2 separate regions of the Homo sapiens genome follow, and region 2 is linked to region 1. Evidence: fine-mapped expression QTL. Tissue or cell type: coronary artery. Region 1 holds a variant in brackets; the other region holds the start of a gene. All regions are shown on one strand. Distances are between the middles of the regions.

Evidence for each region. PIP is the estimated chance that this variant, and not a neighbour inherited with it, causes the effect.
Region 2: it holds the start of DCTN6, and the variant in region 1 is fine-mapped to the expression of DCTN6 in coronary artery (GTEx, PIP above 0.99).

What each region holds. Positions count from the first base shown.
Region 1 is chr8:29,183,162-29,193,819 of GRCh38, forward strand. KIF13B (kinesin family member 13B) reads right to left here. Exons shown (of 40, transcript NM_015254.4): 4 at 7,836-7,896; 5 at 5,354-5,446; 6 at 3,131-3,311. Among named protein-coding and RNA genes, the nearest start is that of KIF13B, 75 kb to the right of the region's middle. The variant CAGG/C (reference allele first, on the strand shown) is at 4,776.
Region 2 is chr8:30,150,533-30,161,190 of GRCh38, forward strand. It overlaps DCTN6 (dynactin subunit 6), which reads left to right and starts at 5,837. Exons shown (of 7, transcript NM_006571.4): 1 at 5,837-5,874. The coding sequence starts at 5,852. DCTN6-DT (DCTN6 divergent transcript) reads right to left here and starts at 6,128. Exons shown (of 1, transcript NR_186490.1): 1 at 5,297-6,128. It overlaps LOC124901927 (a long non-coding RNA gene), which reads right to left and starts at 7,578. Exons shown (of 2, transcript XR_007060880.1): 1 at 7,492-7,578; 2 at 6,640-7,350. RefSeq lists enhancers at 4,928-5,137, 4,962-5,944, 5,888-6,037 and a silencer at 6,098-6,207.

The sequences.
Region 1 (10,658 bases):
AAGTTTGTTTTTTTTTTTTTTTTTTTCCAATGGAGTCTTGCTCTATCACCCAGGATCTCAGCTCACTGTAACCTCCGCTTCCCAGGTTCAAGCAGTTCTCCTGCCTCATCCTCCCGAATAGCTGGGATTACAGGTGTGCATCACCACACCCAGCTCATTTTTGTATTTTTAGTAGACACAGGGTTTTGCCATGTTGGCCAGGCTGGTCTCGAACTCCTGACCCCAAGTGATCTGCCCGCCTCAGCCTCCCAAAGTGCTGGGATTAGAGGTATGAGCCACCGTGCCCAACCAATGCGTCAAGTTTTTGGGTGGTTCTTTGACGCCTATGAAGAGAGGTGCACACTCCTCAGCTTGCTACGCATGCTCCTTTATAATCTGCTCTTGACCACCTCTTAGTCAGCTTCTCCTTATCCTCACCTTAGGCATGAATTAATTTACTTTTATCCATTTGTATTATAATAAACTTTGGGCTCTAGAACAGCAAGAATAATGTCTAATTATTTTGGGAGTCTGCAGTTCCTAGCACAAGTCCTGGCACATAAGAATCACTAAGTGAATGAACAGACTTCACTAACAAAGTGAAGATTAGAGAGATTAAGATGACAGTGAGGACTCCAAATGTGTTAGCTTCCGTCATTTGGAGAGCGAGTGCTAGTAACTAAGAAGGCAGGAGAGGAAGGGAAGAAATGTAGAACACATATAATGAATGACTAGCACAGAAGCTGAACCACATTCAATCACTAACACCCATAATAAAGACAGCAAGAAGAGGATAGTTCTAGAATAACCCTTCATATAAACAGTAAAATCAGGGGATAAGGAAATGACTCTTAAATCTAAAATCTATAGTACCCTAGGATCAACCATTAAAAATGTCACTTATTACCATGTAACTGGATAAAGTAGATATAGAATATTTGATTTACTTCTCGCCCAGGATATAGTCTATTATTGACTTTTTTCCTTTCATATTTCCTTTTTCTTAATGTATCCTCTATTATCTCCTGAGTAAAACAACATAATTACATTACTATATACTAGATGCTGAATTAATATAATTAGTACGTGAATAAAAAATGAAGTTTTCTCAAATGGTCTTTGACTGAAATGAGATCACCTTTAGAGATTTTAATCCATTTACTTTGAATCTTCAGAAACTAAAAAAAAAAAATTTCCAAGAAATTTTCACTGGGGAGATAGCAGCAGCTACCACTTATTGAGCACTTACTGTATGCCAGCAAATGTTCTAAGACCTCAGGTGTATCATCCCAGTCTATCTTCACAACAGCCCTCTGAGATAATTGTATCCTATCATTTCCCTCTTCAAGTTCCCTCTAGGCTGACAAGTTAGGCCTGGAAAGCTTAAGAAACTTGTTCAATAGGTAACAAGTAGAGGACCTAGATCCTGAGCTATGCAAATCCGAAGCTCTTCAGAATTCACTGTTAATTACTGTAAGTAATTACCGTAAGTAAGCTGTTAATTACTAACCTATACCCAAGACAAACATAGGAGAAATTACTAAAGACTGTACATGTGCAGATAAGTTAAAAAGATGCCATACAAGCACTCTGGATTAAGCAGAAGAATGAACAGGTATGAAGTCAGTCAGCTAAGAATTTCTGGAAAGAGTAGGTCTGGGCTGGATCTCAGAAAAGTGATGATCTTTGCGAGGTCAAAGTCCAAGAAAAAGTGTTCAAGGCAGAACAAAGAAAAAAATATACAGGGATATAATATTAAGTAGGATGTGGGTACCTGGACCGTAAGGTACTCTCTAGCCTCTTTGTTTTGGAACATTTTTTATTTTTAATTTCTTTTGAGACAGGATGAATCTCTCATCCTGTCACCCAGGCTGGGGTGCAGTGGTACAATCTTGGCTCACTGAAGCCTCAAACTCCTGGGCTCAAGCGATCCTCCCATCTTGGCCTCCTTTTGTTCCATGTTGACTTCTGTGCATCCTACTCTCCGACCACACTGAACTGCTGGATCATTCTCCAAAGGTGATTAATTTACACCTTCAAGGTGTGGGAGAGGTTGTTCCCTACACCTGAGTAGTTCTCACCCAACTTCCCAGTGGACCAACTTCCCACTCCGCACAAATGTTATCAAGCAAGTACACTCTGGAATCTTCCCTTCTCCTAGGGGCAAGATCAGTCATTGTCCCTTTGCTCTCTAATTTGTAGGAGCCTCCTTCACAAGCTAAAAGCAGATAGCGTTGTATTTTAATTATTTGTTTACAAAACTCTCATTCTGTCCACACTGTGAGTTCTTGCATAGTGCCTGGCATATAATGATCACTCAATAAATGTTTGTTAAGTAAAGTTTGTACAGAAGCACTGAGCATCAATTCAATCTCCCTGTTAGAATCCTAAAGATTATCATCTTGGTCAAGGAAAACTGACAACAGAGAGGAGCTGAGGGTTCTGTTTGCTCTTGACTGAGAGTCACTATGACTCACTGCCTCTAAGATCCTCTTTTCCTTGATCATCTTCCTCATCCAGCAAAACTAAATGTCCTCCTGTTGTCCTGCAAACTTTCTGTAGGCCTCAGCTTATTTGGCTCTTTGACCTTCCTAATGCTGTTTTTACATCAACAAGCCACAGGCTGTGGTCATTATCTCCATCTTTCTCCACTGTTGCGCTTCCTTAAAATCTGAACTCGAAAAACTCTGTGGAATGAACAGATTTCTAGATACCGTGCACTTTCCTCACTCAGTTACAGCTGTAGAGTCAAACCAGCGTTTGTGAAGGCCTCCTAAGACTTCCAATCCAATTCTCTTTACAAGTCTGTGCCATGAAATCATGGGCACTTGTTTTTGTTCCTGAGAATCTTTAAAAACTCACTGTCCTAAAGACTAGGTTTCATCTCTCTGATTATGCCTCTCCCTCACCTCACAGCCCACAAAGAGCTGAATTCCACCTGAAATTTCTTGGGTTTAAAAACAAACAAACAAACAAACAAACTCTTGAGCCCAGGAGTTCAAGGCTGAAGTAAGCTATGATTGTGCCACTGCACTGAAGCCTATGTGACAGAGCGAGACCCTCTGAAAAAATTAAAAAGATTTGCACTTAAGCCAATTTAAGTCTGTTTCAGTTCACAATGCTGAAACACTAAAGTCTCAAAGTCCTTTACCCTTTGGGATCAAGAAGGTCTCGAACTTTTTCATTATAAATTTCCATGTAGGACACTTCTACTTTAAAACTCTGTTCTTCATTTTCCTCTTTCTGAGTTCGTTCAAAGAGTCCACTGCAAAGTCTTGGGATTAATCCAGGTTGGTCAGCTGTGCCCATCATGGTATAAGATTTTCCAGAGCCTAAAAAAATGGAAATCAGAGTTACTATTGTCTCTTTGAGACGTTAAATACATAACCCTCTTTCCGTTGCTCATAATAAACACTTGGCAAAACGCCAAAATGCAGTGAGAAATACACCCAAATATAATGAGAATAATAAGTACAGAAGCTTTTTTACTGCACATGTGAAAGTGAAAAGCAAATGTCCTTTAGAAAGAAAAATAGGCTGGGTGCGGTGGCTCACGCCTGTAATTCCCAGCACTTTGGGAGGCTGAGGTGGGCAGATTGCCTGAGCTCAGGAGTTCGAGATCAGCCTGGGCAACAAGGTGAAACCCCGTCTCTACTAAAATACAAAAAAAAAAGAAAAATTAGCCATGCGTGACGGCACGTGCTTGTAGTCCCAGCTACTCGGGAGGCTGAGGCAGGAGAATTGCTTGAACCCGGGAGGCGGAGGTTGCAGTGAGCCGAGATTGCGCCACTGCACTCTAGCCTGGGCTACAGAGCAACACTCCATCTCCAAAAAAAAAAAAAAAAAGAAAAATAAACTTATTTAATCATCCTCATACTTTAAGAAAATACCTAAAACAAGTGAGAAATAGTGAGGTCTAAAAGTTTTCCGAAATAAGCTGAAAGAGCCATATAATTAATACTATAGTGCCTGCTCCCAACCAGTGATCACAGCACAAAAAATATAGGTTCTCCCTGTGGACCCCAGAGCAAATTAACTCACTACCCTTTCACTATAGTGTGGAAACTAAAGAATAATCTTTTTTCTTATATAAAATTATTTTCTCGGCTGAATGCGGTGGCTCACGCCTGTAATCTCAGCACTTTGGGAGGCCAAGGTGGGTGGATCACCTGAGGTCAGGAGTTTGAGACCAGCCTGGCCAACATGGTGAAACCCCTTCTCTCCTAAAAATACCAAAAAAATTAACCAGGCACGGTGGCAGGCACCTGTAGTGCCAGCTACTCCGGAGGCTGAGGCAGAAGAATCGCTTGAACCTGGGAGGCAGAGGCTGCAATGAGCAGAGATTGTGCCACTGCACTCCAGCCTGGACAACAGAGCAAGACTCCGTCTCAAAATAAAAGATTTTCTCCGTTGTAAAAGAAATATATATTAAATAAAATTTAGAAAACACAGGAAAATAGAAAGAAAAAACTTAAATTACCATAGTCCTACTGCCCGAAAACCAGTAACTACTGACACTTAAGTATAATTCCTTCTGTTTTTAGTAGCAGTGTTTTTGCAAATATGCTTTTAACCTACAAGTTGCTGCTTTTGTCATGCAACATTTTATTGTTATCATAATACCTAAAGCTAATGTGCCACATTTCCTAAGTACCAGGACTTCTGTAAAAAGTTTGCACATGGGAACTCGTTATGACAACCCTACAAGAAGGTCTATGATCATCAGCCTTTCCAGATAAGGACGCTGAAGGGCAGAGAGGTTAAGTAACTGCCCAGGTCTCTCTGCTGGCCAGCTG[CAGG/C]AGCAGGACTGGAGCTGTCGCCGCCTGGCCCCAGCTTTCTGCCCTTTCAACACGACACATGAGGCTTCTTGAAAATATCCAACACATTCTTCTGTGAGAACATTTCTAGTTGGACAAGCTGTATACTTTACTCTTACAAAAGTAACTAGTTCACTTCAAATTTTCTTTTCTTGACCACAGAGACTCAAAAGCCAAAAAGCTTCTTAGTTATTACTGGTGAGATATTAACAAGTATGTTCTTTTTGGTATTTTATCTGTTATGGTTCTGAAAGCCTTAAAAAAGCATGATCTATAGGCATGGCTAGTAATGTGTTCAACAGTCATAGCTCTGTATTTTTTCGAAAAACAATGCTGCCAGTGCCTTGTGAGAAAAATCAGTAAAGATAAAAGATCCCAATCCTAATTTTATTACACTCATTTTAAAATAATGTTACTGACTACTTTCAACATCTACAGTACTTTCTGAAAGCAAAAACAACAAGGAATAAATCAGCAATGTTACTCAGTAAAATAAACATGGTTCTATTTTCTTTCATTGATGGTTGTTTATGTGATTTCATGTTATTTAACATTACCAGTCTGTCCATAGGCAAAGATACATGCATTGTAGCCATCAAAAGCATTCTGCAGGATATTCTCTCCAAGGCACTTGAAAACAATATCTTGACCTGAGAGAGAGAGAATAAGAGAAAAGATATTTTAAGCCAAAACTACATATGAACAATTCACAAAACAAAAACAAAAATCTCAAAAATGTATAATCTGCTTATTTATCTCCAAACAAGATTTTTAAATTTGACGAATGCTCCCAAAGGCTTATGCCTTCCAGGTTATTTCTAGTTAGCACATGAGGGAAAATCAGCTCCCTGTAATACATGCTTGAATAAATAAACACGACTAAGAATCCCCTGCAATGCAGAGCCAATGAGCTGCTCACTTTATAATCAATGATTATAAATATCTGAAATTTATACTTGGGACCCAGGTGTACCTGGACTTAACTATTTACCACTCAGGCAATGCTTTTATTCGGTGGGTACCAGAGTTTAGAATAATCATATATACCAACCCCCTCTCCTTTCCCTCAGTGACAATTTCTAATTACAGGATCTACAACACATACCAGTTAGGACAGGGAGTCAGAGCCTGGAAATTTCCCTCAGCTTTCAATCATGGACATAAAGAACAGAGTCAAATTCTCCCCGACAGGCCAAATGAGATATGTCACTAGTCAGTAATTGAATGTGAATCTGACAAGTCACCCTACCTCACTTAGTCTCAATACCACATGGAAGAACTGGATGCTTTTATGTTATGGCAAGGGTATTCCATTATGTCTCATTTCCTTTTTTTTTTTTTTTAATACCAGTTAACTTATACTTCTGATATTGGGCCACCTAGACCAAATGAATCTTAACTTCAAAACAGCCATAATATTCATCTTTCTCATAACAGAAGCCAAAACAATATGATGCTTAATATTTAAAAGAGATTGTTTAAAAACAGGCGACAAAAGCAGTAAGGAATAAAGGCAATCAAAGGCTGTCACTGCAGTCCTAAACTTGTGGTGAGATGGGGCTTGAGACAGTCATCATTTAGAAGAATAATAGAGTAACAGACTTCCAGAGCCAAAAGAAAATTTAGAGAGAATATGGCATATTCCTTTCCATCAAAAAGAGAAAACTGAAGCTCTGACAGGTGAGGTGATTTACTGAAAGGCGCAGGGGCGGTAAGAAGCAGGGCTGGGCCTGCAGCCTAGGGTTCCTTTTCTCCTTGGCCGGTGCTCCCCTTCTTTCACTATGCCATCCTGTCTCTCCAGCCCAGTCTCAGGCCTCCAGGGCAATCTAAGGGGCGACCTTGTGCTCCCGGCCTCATGTAAGAGCTGGGGCGTGTGAATGTGGAATAGCCACTGTGTGTACTAGTGATGTAATTTCATCAACGTATACCAAGAATGGCACACAGTGAATCTCCCATTTTCCAATCAACATTAAAAACTCTAATAGCAAACACGGGAGGGTGTTGTCTGTACTTTCTACAGTTATGCAAAAGAATCCTATGGTACTCATATATATCCTATGGTAATTATAGAGATGTAGGTTACCATCCGCAGTTCCTGGCTCATTAACCCTTGTTGCAGTCTTTTACATGTTGGGGCATTTTAGCCTCAGGAAACTATCTGATCTCCTGCCCTCCTTTTACCTGCCGGAGGCAAGACTCTCATCTGATTGTGGGTCAAGAGCTTCTCATTCCACAAGGTCTTGCCTCATATCCTAAAGGAAGGAATGCTACACAGAATGGCCAAGAAAAGTCTGAACAGACAGGACGTGCTGTGTTCAGTCATGCACTTTTTGTCAAATCACATTTCTAATCGGTTGACAATCATGCCTATATAAGGAAGCCTCCATAAAAACCTAAAAGGACTGGGTTCAGAGAGCTTCTGGATTGCTAAACACACAGGGCCCAATAGGAAGGTAAGAACTCATCCACACGCCGGGAGGGCGCCGCGCCACCTCCATGAGGACAGAAGCTCCTGCGCTTGGGACCCTTCCAGATCTCACCCTCTGTATCTCTTCATCTGGCTGTTTACCTGTCTCCTTTAAAGAAAATCCCTCGTAATAAACCCCTAAACACAAGTGTTTCCCTGAGTTCTGTGAGCCGCTCTAGGAAATTAATCAAACCCAAAGAGGAGGTTGTGGGAACCCTAATTGGAAGCCAGTAGGTCAGAAGTTCTAGAGGCCTGGACCTGCGCTGGTGGGAAGGAGGGAGCGGTCTTGTGGGACTGAGCCCTCAGTCTGTGGATCTGACGCTGTCCCCAGGTAGAGAGCATCGGAACTGAGTTAGAGGACACCCAGCCAGTGTCTGCCGCTTGGGGTGCAGGGAAAACTCCCCCAACATTTGGTCACATTAAGTCATCTTCTGTGTTGATGACTGTTATTGTGGTGTGACAGCAGAGGAAACACACAGTTTGGGGGGTTTGCCAAGCAATCGTGTAAGGGAAAAAATACTGAACCCCTCTTCTACACCATCAGTAGTTGACAGGATGCTGGATTCTATTACCTGCATACTTTTCTTTGACAGATTCATCCATAGACCAGAAACAATGATCATAAGCAAACACCTGTTGAAAATGAACATAAGTGTGTGTTAAGAAAACCTCAACATTACTTATAAACCATAACTGATAGAACTGTTCATAATAGTGAAATAAAACAACTTACTGTCATACAATGGGAATTAATTATGTATGTAGAGGCTTACAATGAGAACTAAACATGCTATAGGTGATATGACTCTATATTTTACATGGAAAACTATTCACAAAATGTGTAATAAAATGGCTATTGCACACACACATGCACCTACAGTCACACACACAGAATTACATCTATAGTTTATTTTTTTGCAGCGAAATTAGTGATCTGTTTCATGTTTTTATATTTTTTCAATATTTTTATTTTTGTAGTCAAAGAAAAAGATATTTTTTAAATAACATTTAAAGATGCTCACTATAGCATGTCCAAAATAGCTTAAAATAGCAGAATGTTTACATAAATTATGACATGCCCATGTGCAAGTATAGATTTGAGGGTATAGAAGACTTACTAATTTAAAAAAAGTTTATGTTAATGAAAAAGTTATAAAAGTCTAGAGTATGATTCCATATTTGTACCAAAAAACTATATGCATAAAAAGCAGGAACAATCTGTATTAAAATGCTACTTGGTGGGATCTTACAGATGATCTGTTTTGATCTTTCACCTTATCACCACTTTCTAGAATATCACATAGTTCTTTTGCACTGTTTGAAAAGCTTCTTTTTCACTAATTATTTCTTTTTAAACCAACTAAGCAAAGGCAAATTTTTCACTGACTGCATCTTTCACTTTTTCGATTTCTGTCAGTTTGAAATCTACTTACTTGTGTTTTGTGATTTTTATCTCCGTAAAGATTTTAAGTGCAATTGTTTTAAAATGTATCTCGGTTCACATTTTGTCACATTCTCCCACTTTGGGAGTCTGTTGCTATGCTTCCTGATGATGGTTTGCATGTTAGTTTGCAGGTACATCTTAGCAGGGAGTGTTTATTTTATGGTTTACATGATTGCTTATTTTTTCCTCTCCTGATGGCCACCTTTCCATGACTAGTTTATGCTGTCATTTCCATTACTGAAGCCCAGATTTTGGGTCTTCTCAAGGCCCAATGTCTCCATCCCTTCCTATTAACACAGACATTAGCTCAATGTTGGTGGCCAAAAACTGACTGTAAGCTTTCACTCACAGAGAAGGCTCGCCCAAATCAGTTTTCACATGGTGAGCCTGGCTCCAGTCCCCAACCATACACCAGTGCCCCCATTAGTCGGCAAGAGTTGAACTTCCAATCACCTCCAGGCACCTGGTCTGATTCCAAAGCCCTGGAAATATGTCACTTCAGCCCTCGCTTACTGCTGGTCCTTGAAGTTATATATGTTGTTGTTGTGTTTTTCTAGTTTTGTGTAGAGATGGGGTCTCACTATGTTGCCCAGGCTGGTCTCAGACTCCTGGCCTCAAGCAATCCTCTAGCCTCAGCCTCCCAAGTACTGAGATTACAGCTGTGAGCCACCATGCCCAGTCTAAATTTGTTTTTGAGTTTGATTACATGATTCGCACATTCTAAAATATTTTATCTATCTCTGCTATAATTTTGATGTTGGCAGGAGAATGTTTCTGTGTAAACTCACAAGATTATCTGGACCAGAAGTCTAAAAGGTTAATTTTTTTAAGAAAGAAAATTAGGTTAAGATGGTAAATTAATAATGCATACTGATATCCATCACCCAGCTAAAATTAACTCAAAACGACAGGCGATGGGGGAAGTGGGGAAATTGCCAAAAAGGAAGAGAAGGGGGAAAAAAGAACAAGGTTTTGAAACCAAGAGTGCTTGCTTGTGCCTGGATCAGAATTGAGAAACTCCTGAAAAAATAGTTCCAATGAAACTGATGGGGGTAAGGGTGGGGGCCTGCAGGGAGAGCACAGGCTGCAAAGCCAGTGAGCAGTTCTGGGAGGTACCAGAAGGGCAACTAAAGGGGGAGGCAGATAACCCTGGCAGCAACCGAGAGGACGACTGGCTCAGCACCTCTGGACAGGTGAGGATCGGCACACCTGCATCTCTGTGTGAAACAGCAGGCAGGGGAGACACCTGTTCCCTGGATGGGGCTGTGAGAAGGAAGCGAGGCCAGGAAGTGAAAGCAGACCCCCAGCGGCTGACAGCCCCTGAGAGCCCTTGGGCCCAGAAGACATCATCCAGCTGCAGTGTTGTGTTACACACTGCTCACCCTCCATGTTTTTCCAAAGCTAAAACGTATATCTATCAGCAGTGGTGGCTCACTAAGCCATTTTCAAACACAGAGGAGCAAAAGGAGGAGGATGGAAGATGGCCCCAAAGGACTGGGCATCAAACTGGGGGGAGCTGCCTTGCAAACTCCAGGTGTCACCCATAGTGAGAATCATTACAGCAGAGTAGGAGTAAATAAAATGTGGAGCTCAAACGAAGTTTCTCCTGTTCTAGCTTTCCACGCTTATCTCCATAATTTTATTTAATTAATTCTGTTCTTAATAAGGCTAAGTAAAAACCATCCTGATTCTTGTAAGCTTAGTTCTCACTTCAAAAGCCCTATCACATGTGTATACAGTCATCCCTCAGTATCCTGAGTGGGACTGCTTCCAGGACCTCCCATGAATACCAAAATCCACAGATGTGCAAGTCCTTATATAAAATGGTGTAGTATTTGCATAAAACCCACACATATCCTCCCATATACTTCAAATCATCTCTTGATTACTTAAAACACCTAAGACAAAGTAGATGCTATGTAAATAGTTGTCATACTGTACTGCTTTTTAC
Region 2 (10,658 bases), 970 kb after region 1:
CTACATCTAAACCAGCCCAGCCGCTGACCCCCAAAAGTTAGTCTGCAGTTATATTAATTTGAGGTTGGGCCTGGGTGTTGCGAGCAGCCTGAATGGAAGCTTCATCTGCCCACCAAGTTTTAAATTGTAAGAAGTGAGTGGGAATTAGACCAGCTCGAGTAAGAGTGTTCCAGTCAGTAGGACTCATCCGACTGGAAACAGCAACATTCTTTAACAGTCCCATTACAAAAGGAGAACCTGGTCCATACTGATTAATAGCTTGTTTAAAATTCTTTGAGTAATTTAAAAGGAAAAGGCTCAAATGTAGCTGTAATAGTTCCCTGTTGATCAGGTGGGTGTATTCTAACAGGGAACTGCCAAGCCTCTATATCACCCTCTCGTCTAGCTTGCTGAATTCCTGCCTGAATAGAACTGAGAGTGGTCGCTGGAGGCGCTGCTCGAACAGTCACTGGGGCAACTACTTTTCACTCAGTGTCCTCCAGAAAAGAAAGATCTGGAGGGTGAGGCCACTCTTTTTCTTCAAAATAATAATGAGGGGGTGCAGAAGGGTAGGGATGAACCTCTCCCTCCTTTGCCACTTTAGCTTTAGCTGGCAAATAAACCTCCTCTGTAACCTCTTCTGTTATCTCGTTATACTCTCCTTCCTCATCATCAGTGTGAAAAGGTTCCAAAGTGGAACGAACCAGAGCCCACACTTGTCCCATTGTTACCCTGATGCTTCTGAGCTCCCCTTCTTACCCACCACGGGGATTGCTTTAAGAGTACTTGGGTGTCCTCCAGCTTAGCTCCACATTCTCCAACCATTGCTCTGATGACTCTTCGACCTGGGTTTGAGCCCCCACGTATGGGCGCCACTTGCCAAGACCAGCTCGGTCCTGGAGACCCTAACCCAGCGGCACTAGAGGAATTAAAGACAGACACATAGAAATATAGAGTGCGGAGTGGGAAATCAGGGGTCTCACAGCCTTCAGAGCTGAGAGCCTCGAACAGAGATTTATCCACATATTTACTGACAGCAAGCCAGTGATAAGCATTGTTTCTATAGATTAACTAAAGATATTCCTTACGGGAAATAAAGGGATGGGCTGAAATAAAGGAATGGGTTTGGCTAGTTATCTGCAGCAGGAGCATGTCCTTAAGGCACAGATCGCTCATGCTATTGTTTGTGGTTTAAGAACACCTTTAAGGGGTTTTCTGCTCTGGGTGGGCCAGGTGTTCCTTGCCCTCATTCTGGTAAACCCACAATCTTCCAGCGTGGGCGTCATGGCCATCACGAACATGTCACAGTGTTGCAGATATTTTGTTTATGGCCAGTTTTGGGGCCAGTTTATGACCAGATTTTGGGGGCCTATTCCCAACAGGGAAGAAGAGGGCTCCCTAAGGAACTAAATAAGATAACATCATATTAAACATATTGAATGAAACCAAATCCCACATCAAATATAATTTCTAGGTATAGAAGAGTTGAATTGCAGTTGATTAGTTAAGAAAAAAGTTGCTTTGTAGACATTGAATTAAGTATGTACGTGTGGGTTTGGACACAGTGACTCATGCCTGTAATCCCAGCACTTTGGGAGGCAGAGGCAGGTGGATCACCTGAGGTCAAGAGTTCAAGACCAGCCTGGCCAACATGGTGAAACTCTGTCTCTAATAAAAATCCAAAAAAAAAAAAAAAAAAAAAAAAAAAAAAGGCCAGGCATGGTGGCAGGTGCCTATAATTCCAGCTACTCAGAAGGCTGAGGCAGGAGAATCACCTGAATCCAGGAGGTGGAGGTTGCAGTGAGCCGAGATCACGCCATTGCACTCCAGCCTGGGCAACAAGAGTGAAACTCCATCTCAAAAAAAAAAAAAAAGTATGTGTGCATTTATTTATTTTATTATCGAGACAGGCTCTTGCTCTGTTGCCCAGGCTGGAGTGCACTGGCATGATCTTGGCTCATTGCAACTTTGACCTCCCGGACTCAAGTGATCCTCCCACCTCAGGCCCCAAGTAGCTGGGGCTACAGGCACGTGCCACCATGCCTCGCTAATTTTTGTATTTTTTGTAGAGACAGAGTTTTGCCATGTTGCCCAGGCTAGTCTCGAACTCCTAACTCAAACAATCCACCTGCCTCAGCTTCCCAAAGAACTGGGGTTACAGGCGTGAGCCACTGTGCCTGGCCTTAGCATTAATTAATTCCTACCTGTACGGTTTACATTCTGGAATCAGTACATTTTATTTTCAGGTTTCAAACAGTTCGTTGATCCCCAAAAAGCCTATAGGCCCTAGACACTGTACCTAATACTGATAAAATGATCCTTTATAAGTATGCCATAGAAGTCTTTCAAATTAATATAAATACACATTGCTTGAAAATGGATAGGTGTTTACATGGTTGGCAGTGACAAAACACTCTAAATTCATTCATATACTTATTCAACAAGTTTAGAGGAATATCAACCATGCACCAGGCACTGTGGTTGGTGCTGAGTAAAGAGTGGGAACAAAACTCACATGGCTCTAACTTCATGGAACTTAAGTCTTTGGAGGAAATGGTAAGATAAGTAAGTATAGCTGGTGATGAGTGCAATCCTTACCCCACAGAGAAAATAATTAGAATAGGAAGGGTAGCCTATTTTTGATTAGATGGTGCTATGGTCTGAATGTTTTTGTCCCTCCAGAATTCATATGTTGAAATAATACCTTCAAGGTTCTGTCCTCTCTGCCGAGCCTCACATCTGATATTTTATTGACTACTTGGCAATTAAGAGGTGGGACATTTGGGAGGTGATTAGGTGATGAGGGCTCTCATCAGACACAGAATGTCCAGCGCTTTGATCTTGGACTCCCCAGCCTCTAGGACTGTGAGCAATAAATGTCTTTGTTTATAAATAACAGTAGTCGCACTTATCCATGGTTTCATCTTCTGTGGTTTCAGTAACCTGTAGTCAACATCAGTCCAAAAATATTAAATAGAAAATTCCAGAAATAAACAATTTGTGAGTTTTAAATTGCACACCATTTTGAGTAGCATGATGAACTCTCGTACCATGCTGCTCTCTCTAGGCAAGAACATGAATCATCCCTTTGTATCCACACTGTTGGTACTACCTGCCCATTAAAGCTTTCTCAGTTATCAGATACATTGTTGCAGTATCAGAGTACTTGTGTTCAAGTCACTCTTATTTTACTTCATAATGGCCCCAAAGCACAAAAGTAGCGATGCAGGTGATTTGGATCTGCCAAAGAGAAACTGTAAAATGCTTTAAGTGAAAATGTGAAAACTTCTTGATTTCAAAAGGAAAGAAAAAAAACTATATGCTGAGGTTGCTAAGATCTATGGTAAGAATAAATCTTTTACCCATGAAACTGTTAATGAGGAAAAGGAAATGTGTGCATAGTATATAGAGGGTTCAGTATTATCTGTGGTTTCAGGCATCCACTAGAGGTCTTGGAATGTATCCCCCGAGGATAAGAAAGGACTACTATACCCAGTCTAAGGTATAACTGTCCCTCAGTATGCTTGGGGAACTGGTTCCTGGACACCCTGATGCCAAAATCTGCAGATGCTCAAGCCCCTGATATAAAATGGTGTAGTATTTGCATATAACTAACTGATGCATATCCTCCCATATCCTTTCAATCATCTTTATATTATTCAGAATATCTAATACAATTCCTACATATCACTTCATTCATGTGGCTTCAATGTAGCACTTGGCATGCAGCAAATTCAAGTTTTGCTTTTTGGAAACTTGCGTAATTTTTTCCCCCAAATTTTTGATCCAACGTGGGTTGCTGTCAACCAGTCACAGATGTCAAACCCACAGATACAAAGGGCCAACTGTATTTTGTTATAGCAGCCAGAAAGAACTAAGACAGTCAAGGAGGGTTTCCCTGAGTGTGATGGTCAGTTTTTTGTGTCAACTTGGTTAGGCTACATTCCCAAGTCATTAGTCAAACACTAATCTAGATGCTGCTGTAAAGGTATTTTTGTGGATGTGATTAAAGCCCATCATCAGTTCACTTTAAGGAAGAGAGATTATCCTAGCTAATCTGGGTGGGCCTGATTCAATCAGTTGAAGGCCATAAGAGCTGAGATGGGCTTCCCTGAAGAAATTCCTCCTGTGAACAACAGCCTCACCCCTTGCATGAGAGTTCCAGCTTAGTGTACAGATTTTGGACTTGCTTAGCTGGGGCTCCACAATCATGTAAGCCAATTCCTTACAATAAGCCTTTTGATATCCATCTACTACTAGTTCTGTTTCTCTGGTTGGAAACTGAGTATGTGACATCCGAGACATAAAGGGTCAGAAGGTGTTAGGGTGGGGGCAAGTGGAAGCGGTTGGGGGTGGAGAGTCAGCTTTGCTTTTTTGGAGAATGAGGGTGTGATCGAACACATAGAAAGAGAAAGAGAGAAGTAGGCAGGGGCTGGATGTAGCTCAGAGATAGGTTATGGAAAGCAGTTTGGATTTTAGATTTTAAGAGGAAGGGGAAATAACTGAATTTGGCTCTTATTTTTAATTTTTTTCCATTAAAAAAATACATTATAGAAAAAATATATAGAGACGGGATCATGCTGTGTTGACCAGGCTGGTCTCCAACTCCTGGCCTCAAGCGATCCTCCCATCTCGGCCCCCCAAAGTGCTGGGATTACCGGTTTGAGCCACGCGCCTGGCCTCAATTTGTCTTTTAAAGGATGATTTTGACTACAAGAGAACTACTTGGATCAGGGTTGGGGGTGGGAGATGAGGAGGTGTGATTTCAGAGGCCAAGTACAGAATGAGTGAACAACTGGGAGAGACACATCGGCTGAGATTAGAGAGATGGTCCGGTAGACAAAAGTGTAAGCATGAGACCCGAGGTAGGACAAGCAGAACTTGCAGATCTATTACAGATGTAGGGGTGAGGAGTGCCAGGGTGACTCTTGAGTGTCTGGCTTGAGCAGCTAGGCAAATGGTGTGGATCAAAAAAGCAGCAGGTTGCAGGGAGGACGGCAGTGTTAATCGAAAGTCATGTTCTGTAAGTTTTAGGTTCGATACGACTCTGAGCGGAGATGTCAATTAGTCAACCGAATGTCAGGTGTGAAGATCGGCACAGAGGGCAGAACCAGAGACATTCATTAGAGAGCAAACAGGTAGAGGGCACTTAACCTATAGGAAGGATGCACTCATATAGAGCGAGAAAAGGGCCAGAAGGAGCCCTAATGAGTAGAGAAAGACAGGCTGAAAAGGACATCGGCGAGGTCAGAGAAATACCTTTAGGGTGTAATTACGCCTACGCGAGTGGGTAAAATGAGGGCATAATGACGCGGACTGGATTGCAATAAACAGCTTTTATTCTTTTATCAGAGACACGATCTAGCTTTTTAGCCCAGGCCGGAGTGCGGTGGCATCCTCACAGCTCGCTGCAGCTTCACTGGGCTCAGGCGATCCTCTCGAGTAGCTGGGGTACAGGCGCAGGCCACCGTGACAGGCTTTTTTTTTTTTTTTTTTTTTTTTTTTTTGAAGAGAGGGTCTCACTATGTTACCCAGGCTAGTCTCGCAGTCTGGCACTCCTGGCCTCAAGCGATCCTCCTGCCTCGGCCTCTCGGCCTCCCAAAGTGCTGGCCTGTGCCCAGTCAATGGCTGTTCCAAATTAGGGTCTACCCATCTCTATGCAGGGCTAAAGTCCGCGGGCGGCCCCGCACCGCTACCAAAAGTACAGTCCTGTGCGCCCAGACGCGACGCAAACAAGAGTCGCAAGCTTCCGGGTCCCCGCCCCACCCCGGCTCCGCCCCTCCCCCAACCCTGCCAGGCTCTCCAATCGCATGTGGAATTATCGCTCTACCCAGGCGGTGGTGTCGATCTACGTTCCAATTGGGGCCGTACCATGGCGGAGAAGACTCAAAAGAGGTGGGTTTGCTGCTTGAGAAAAGCCTTTTCTCAGCTTTCCGTAGGGGTGGAACCTGTTCCTGGTCGCCAATGGTGGCGACTCAGAAGGTGTCTCATCCTGGGCATTCGGGCCGAAGGTACCTGAAGCCCAGACCTGGCGTCCACTGAGGGAGGGGGCGACGGAGTGGGGGCGGGGAGGGTTGAGAAGGGACGCGGAGTCGCTGCCTGGAAGGTTTTTGTTCCTGTCTGGCCGTCCCTCCCCACATGCGCCTGCGCAGAGGGGGTCTCCCGGCCGGGAGGGCGGGGGGGGCTGTGAGGGGAGGGTGACGTCAGCTTTTTCCTGGGGAAGGCCGGCTCCCTTCTCCCGCATAATCGGCGGTGCTTGGCGCCGCTGTACCCCACGGCTTGGCGCTGGATTCTCTGCTGCATGTTGCGAGACCCCCACGCCAGTGCTGGCCGCACCCCAGGCCCTTCCTGTCTCTGGAGGGTGGGGTGTGTAAAGGGATTTACGGTCGCTGTCAAAAGGGGGGCCGCGCCTGGACTTGAACTGTGACACACACACACACACATTATATAGATGCAAGGAGTACTTGCGCAGATTTGTTGCATAGATAAATTGCGTAATGGTGAAGTTGGCTTCTAGTGTACTTACCACCCAAATAGTGAACATTGTATCAGATGGGTAATTTTTCAGCCCTCAAACCCCTCCTACCCTCGCTGCTTTTAGAGTCCCCAGTGTCTGTTATTTCCCTCTTTATGTTTATGTGTACTCATTTTAGCTCCCACTTAAAAGTGAGAACATGTGCATTTGATTTTATTTCTGAGTTATCGCGTAAGGTAATGGCCTCCAGTTCCATCCATGTTGTTGCAAAAGACATGTTTCCTTTCTTTTTGATGGCTCTGTAGTATTCCATCGTATAGATACACCACATTTCCTTTATCCAGTCATCCGTTGATGAACACTTAGGTTGATTCCATACTTTGCTATTGTGAATAGTACAGTGATAGTCATAGGAGTGCAGTTGTCTTTTTAATACAATGGTTTCCTTTGAGTAGATCCTGGGTCGAATGGTAGTTCCGTTTGGATTGGTAGCTCTATATGGATTGCTGGGTCCAATGGTACTTGTGTTTAGTCCTTTGAGAAATCACCATACTATTTTCAATAGATGAACTAATTTATATTCCCACCAATAGTGTATAAGCTTAGAACTGTGACATTTTTTGCCAGGCGTGGAGTGGACAAGCTCCTTTGTAAACATGTGGGGACAGGAAGTTTGGCTTCTTCTCCGGTAGTCTTCATTGCTGGGGGCTGTTGGTGGCTGTTGGTGGCTGGGATGAGACAAGTGCATAAGTAAAGCCATTTCGAACAGCAGCAGTGTTGAGCTCCCTCTGCTGACTATTTTTGACAAAGAAAACTGACATTGTTTCTGGTGCCATAAATTAAAATGTAGATTTTTCTTCCATTTAAGTAGATACTCTGTAATCTTTTTTCATAAGCTAAAGAGGAACAGATGTACTATAAATATTATGTGCAGTAGATAGCAGTAGATAGTAGCTTACAGTGAAGATTAAGGTATTGTTGACTTGTTACTTTTACAGATCTGAGGTTAAGTCTTGCCCTCCCATCTGCCGGCTCACCTCTCTGCTCCCACCACTCCGAGATACAAGGGGTCCTTGCAGAGATATCGGGACCACGTTTTAGTTGGCCTAGTGGCCTGCCCCACTGAGAAGTGTGCTGATTGTGACGCAAGCATTACCTGGGATCTCTCCCTTGGGCGTAAAACTGAAGGCAGGGGGCATTTGTGAGTCTCTCCTACTCTCAGTTGCCCAGGACAAGTTCAATGTTAGATAATGCTCTTTTCATAATGAGAAGGAAGCTGAGGAAATGGAAAATTGCAATGAGAAATAAGGTCTAAAACAAGAGACATTTTATAGAGGCTAATGTATTTGACCAGGGCTTAATAAAATTGCATATTTTAACAAAAAAAACCCACTTTAAATGAAAAGTATCAGAGAAATGACATTTACAGCTGGTGATACATTCAAGGACAGTGTCGCTCATTTATCATGGAAAAACATCTGGAGTGACAGGATGTTTCCAGAAAACTTTCAACTAGAAGACAGATGACTGATTTCAGGACAGTGATGCCCCAGGAATGAACTCTGCTCCAAGAAATTTCTAGTCTCTGAATTTCAGTTTTTTCTTCTATAATATGAGAGGGTTAGACCAGGTGATTTTCTTCTAATCTTACTAAAATCTTTCTTCTTCAATACAGCAGGAGGGCTACATATTTTCTGTTATTTCAGTAGATTGACTTTTTTTTTTTTTTTTTTTGTGAGACAGAGTCGCTCAGGCTGGAGTGCAGTGAAAGCTTTGCACCATGCCTGGTTCCTTTTTTTTTTTTTTTTTTTTTGAGACGGAGTCTCACTCTGTTGCCTAGGCTGGAGTGCAGTGGCACAATCTCTGCTCACTGCAACCTTTGCCTCCTGGGTTCAAGCGATCATCCTGCCTCAGTCTCCAGAGTAGCTGGGACTACAGGCACCCACCACCACACCTGGCTAATTTTTGTATTTTTAGTAGAGATGGGGTTTCACCATGTTGGCCAGGCTGATCTCGAACTCCTGACCTCAAGGAATCTGCCCACCTCGGCCTCCCAAAGTGGTGGGATTACAGGCGTGAGCCACTGCACCTGGCCCAGATTGACTCTTGACAGGCTGTATCACCCAGAAGGACCATTGGTAGGATTTCATTGACTTACGCCTTATAAAAAGTCAGAGCCTAACAAAATGATGGAAACAGCTGGAGCTGTGTCTATTCTCAAAACCATTTCTTGAAGATAGACTCAGGGATTATTAGTTTTTTCTATTTGATACATGTTTTTTTGTTTACTTAGAGCTTTAAAAATTCATGGCGGTGTGAAGGTTTGTCCACCCTAATTTGTGGAAGAAAAATTTGTGTATGTCTTCTTTTTTTTTTAGTTCATCACACCAGTAGGGAAGTTGGTACAATCTTAAAAATAGTTTTCATCTTACTTTGCATGTATATTAGGGAATACTTGGGGGGAAGATTCTGGCATAGAAATGATGGAGAGACATGTTAATGAAAGAATCTTTACCCTTCTGACTCTCAGAGCTGTATTTTTAGAACTCTCTTATGAGCTTCAGAATCTGTATTTTCAGTCGCTTATTGGATATATCTGGTGACCATTCCATAGATACCTCAGACTGAGTTTATCTAAAATTTAGCCAAATGACTTTTTTCTCTAAAATCTACCCCTCCTCCCATAGGCTATTCTCAGATGGTGCCATTAGTTTTCCAGATCAGAAACCTAGAGGCTTTGACCTTGCTCCCTAGCTCCAGACTTTTGATTAGTTTTCTTTTTTTTTTTTTTTTGAGACAGGGTTTCACTCCATCACCCAGGCTGGAGTGCAGTGGTGCAATCTCAGCTCACTGCAACCTCTACCTCCTGGGCTCAAGCGATCCTCCCGCCTCAGCCCCCCAAGTAGCTGGGAGTACAGGTGTAAGCCACCATACCCAGCTAATTTTTGTATTTTTTGTAGAGATGGGGTTTTACCATGTGACCCAGGCTGGTTTTGGTTGTTTTTCTGGCATAAGTGAAGCAGAGTCACAGCAGCTGATTTTGAGCCCTGGAATTTGAGCTTCCCTCTCCATCAGGAATCATCCCTTCCCAGGAAGGGGACAAGATGGCACCAGTTTCCTTATTTCACTCCATGCCCCTCACACCCATCCTTCTGTAGTTGATATGGTTTGGCTGTGTCCCCACCCAAATCTCATTTTGAAATGTAGTTCCCATAATTCCCACATGTTGTGGGAGGGACCAGGTGGAGATAATTGAATCATGGGAGCCGTTTCCCCCATCCTGTTCTCATGATAGTGAATTAGTTCTCATGAGATCTAATGGTTTTATAAGGGGCTTCCCCCTTCACTGGGCACTCATTCTCTTCCCTGCCACCATGTGAAGAAGGACGTGTTTGCTTCCCCTTCTGCCATGGTTGTAGGTTTCCTGAGGCCTCCCCAAACATGCTGAACTGTGAGTCAATTAAACCTCTTTCCTTTATAAATTACCCAGTCTCAGGTATGTCTCTATTAGCAGTGTGAGAACAGACCAATACACTAGTCAAACTTACTTCCCCTGCACAGAGAAGAAAGCAAATATAGTTTGCTCTTTATATCCATGGGTTCCACATCCATGGATCCAACCAACCTCAGATCGAAAATAGGAAAAAAAAATTGTGTCTGTAAACAATACAGTATAATTATTTACATAGCATTTACATTGTATTAGGTATTGTAAATTATCTAGAAATGACAAAGTATGAGAAGATGTGTATAGGTTTTATGCAAACACTGCAGCATTTTATATCAGAGACTTGAACATCTGAGGACTGGTCCTGGAACCAATCTCCCACAGATACTGGGTACTGAGGGATGCGACTGTATGCACTTTGTGGTCCATGGGGCCTGTAACAAGGAATGGGAAATACCTACCTTCAACGTTGCCTAGAAACCAGATTTTTATTAAATGTGTTTGTTGCCAAGTCTTGTTTCTATTTCCTAGACATACCTGCAGCTTCTCCTATGTGCTACCAGTGCATTTGATATGGTTTGGCCCTGTGTCCCCATCATATCTCATCTTGAATTATAATGCCCACCTGTTGAGGGAGGGACCCGTAATCCAAGTGATTGGATTATGGGAGTGGTTCCCCCATGCTGTTCTTGTGAAACCTGATGGTTTTATAAATGGTAGTTTTTCCTGCGCTCACACTGTCTCTCTGTCCTGCTG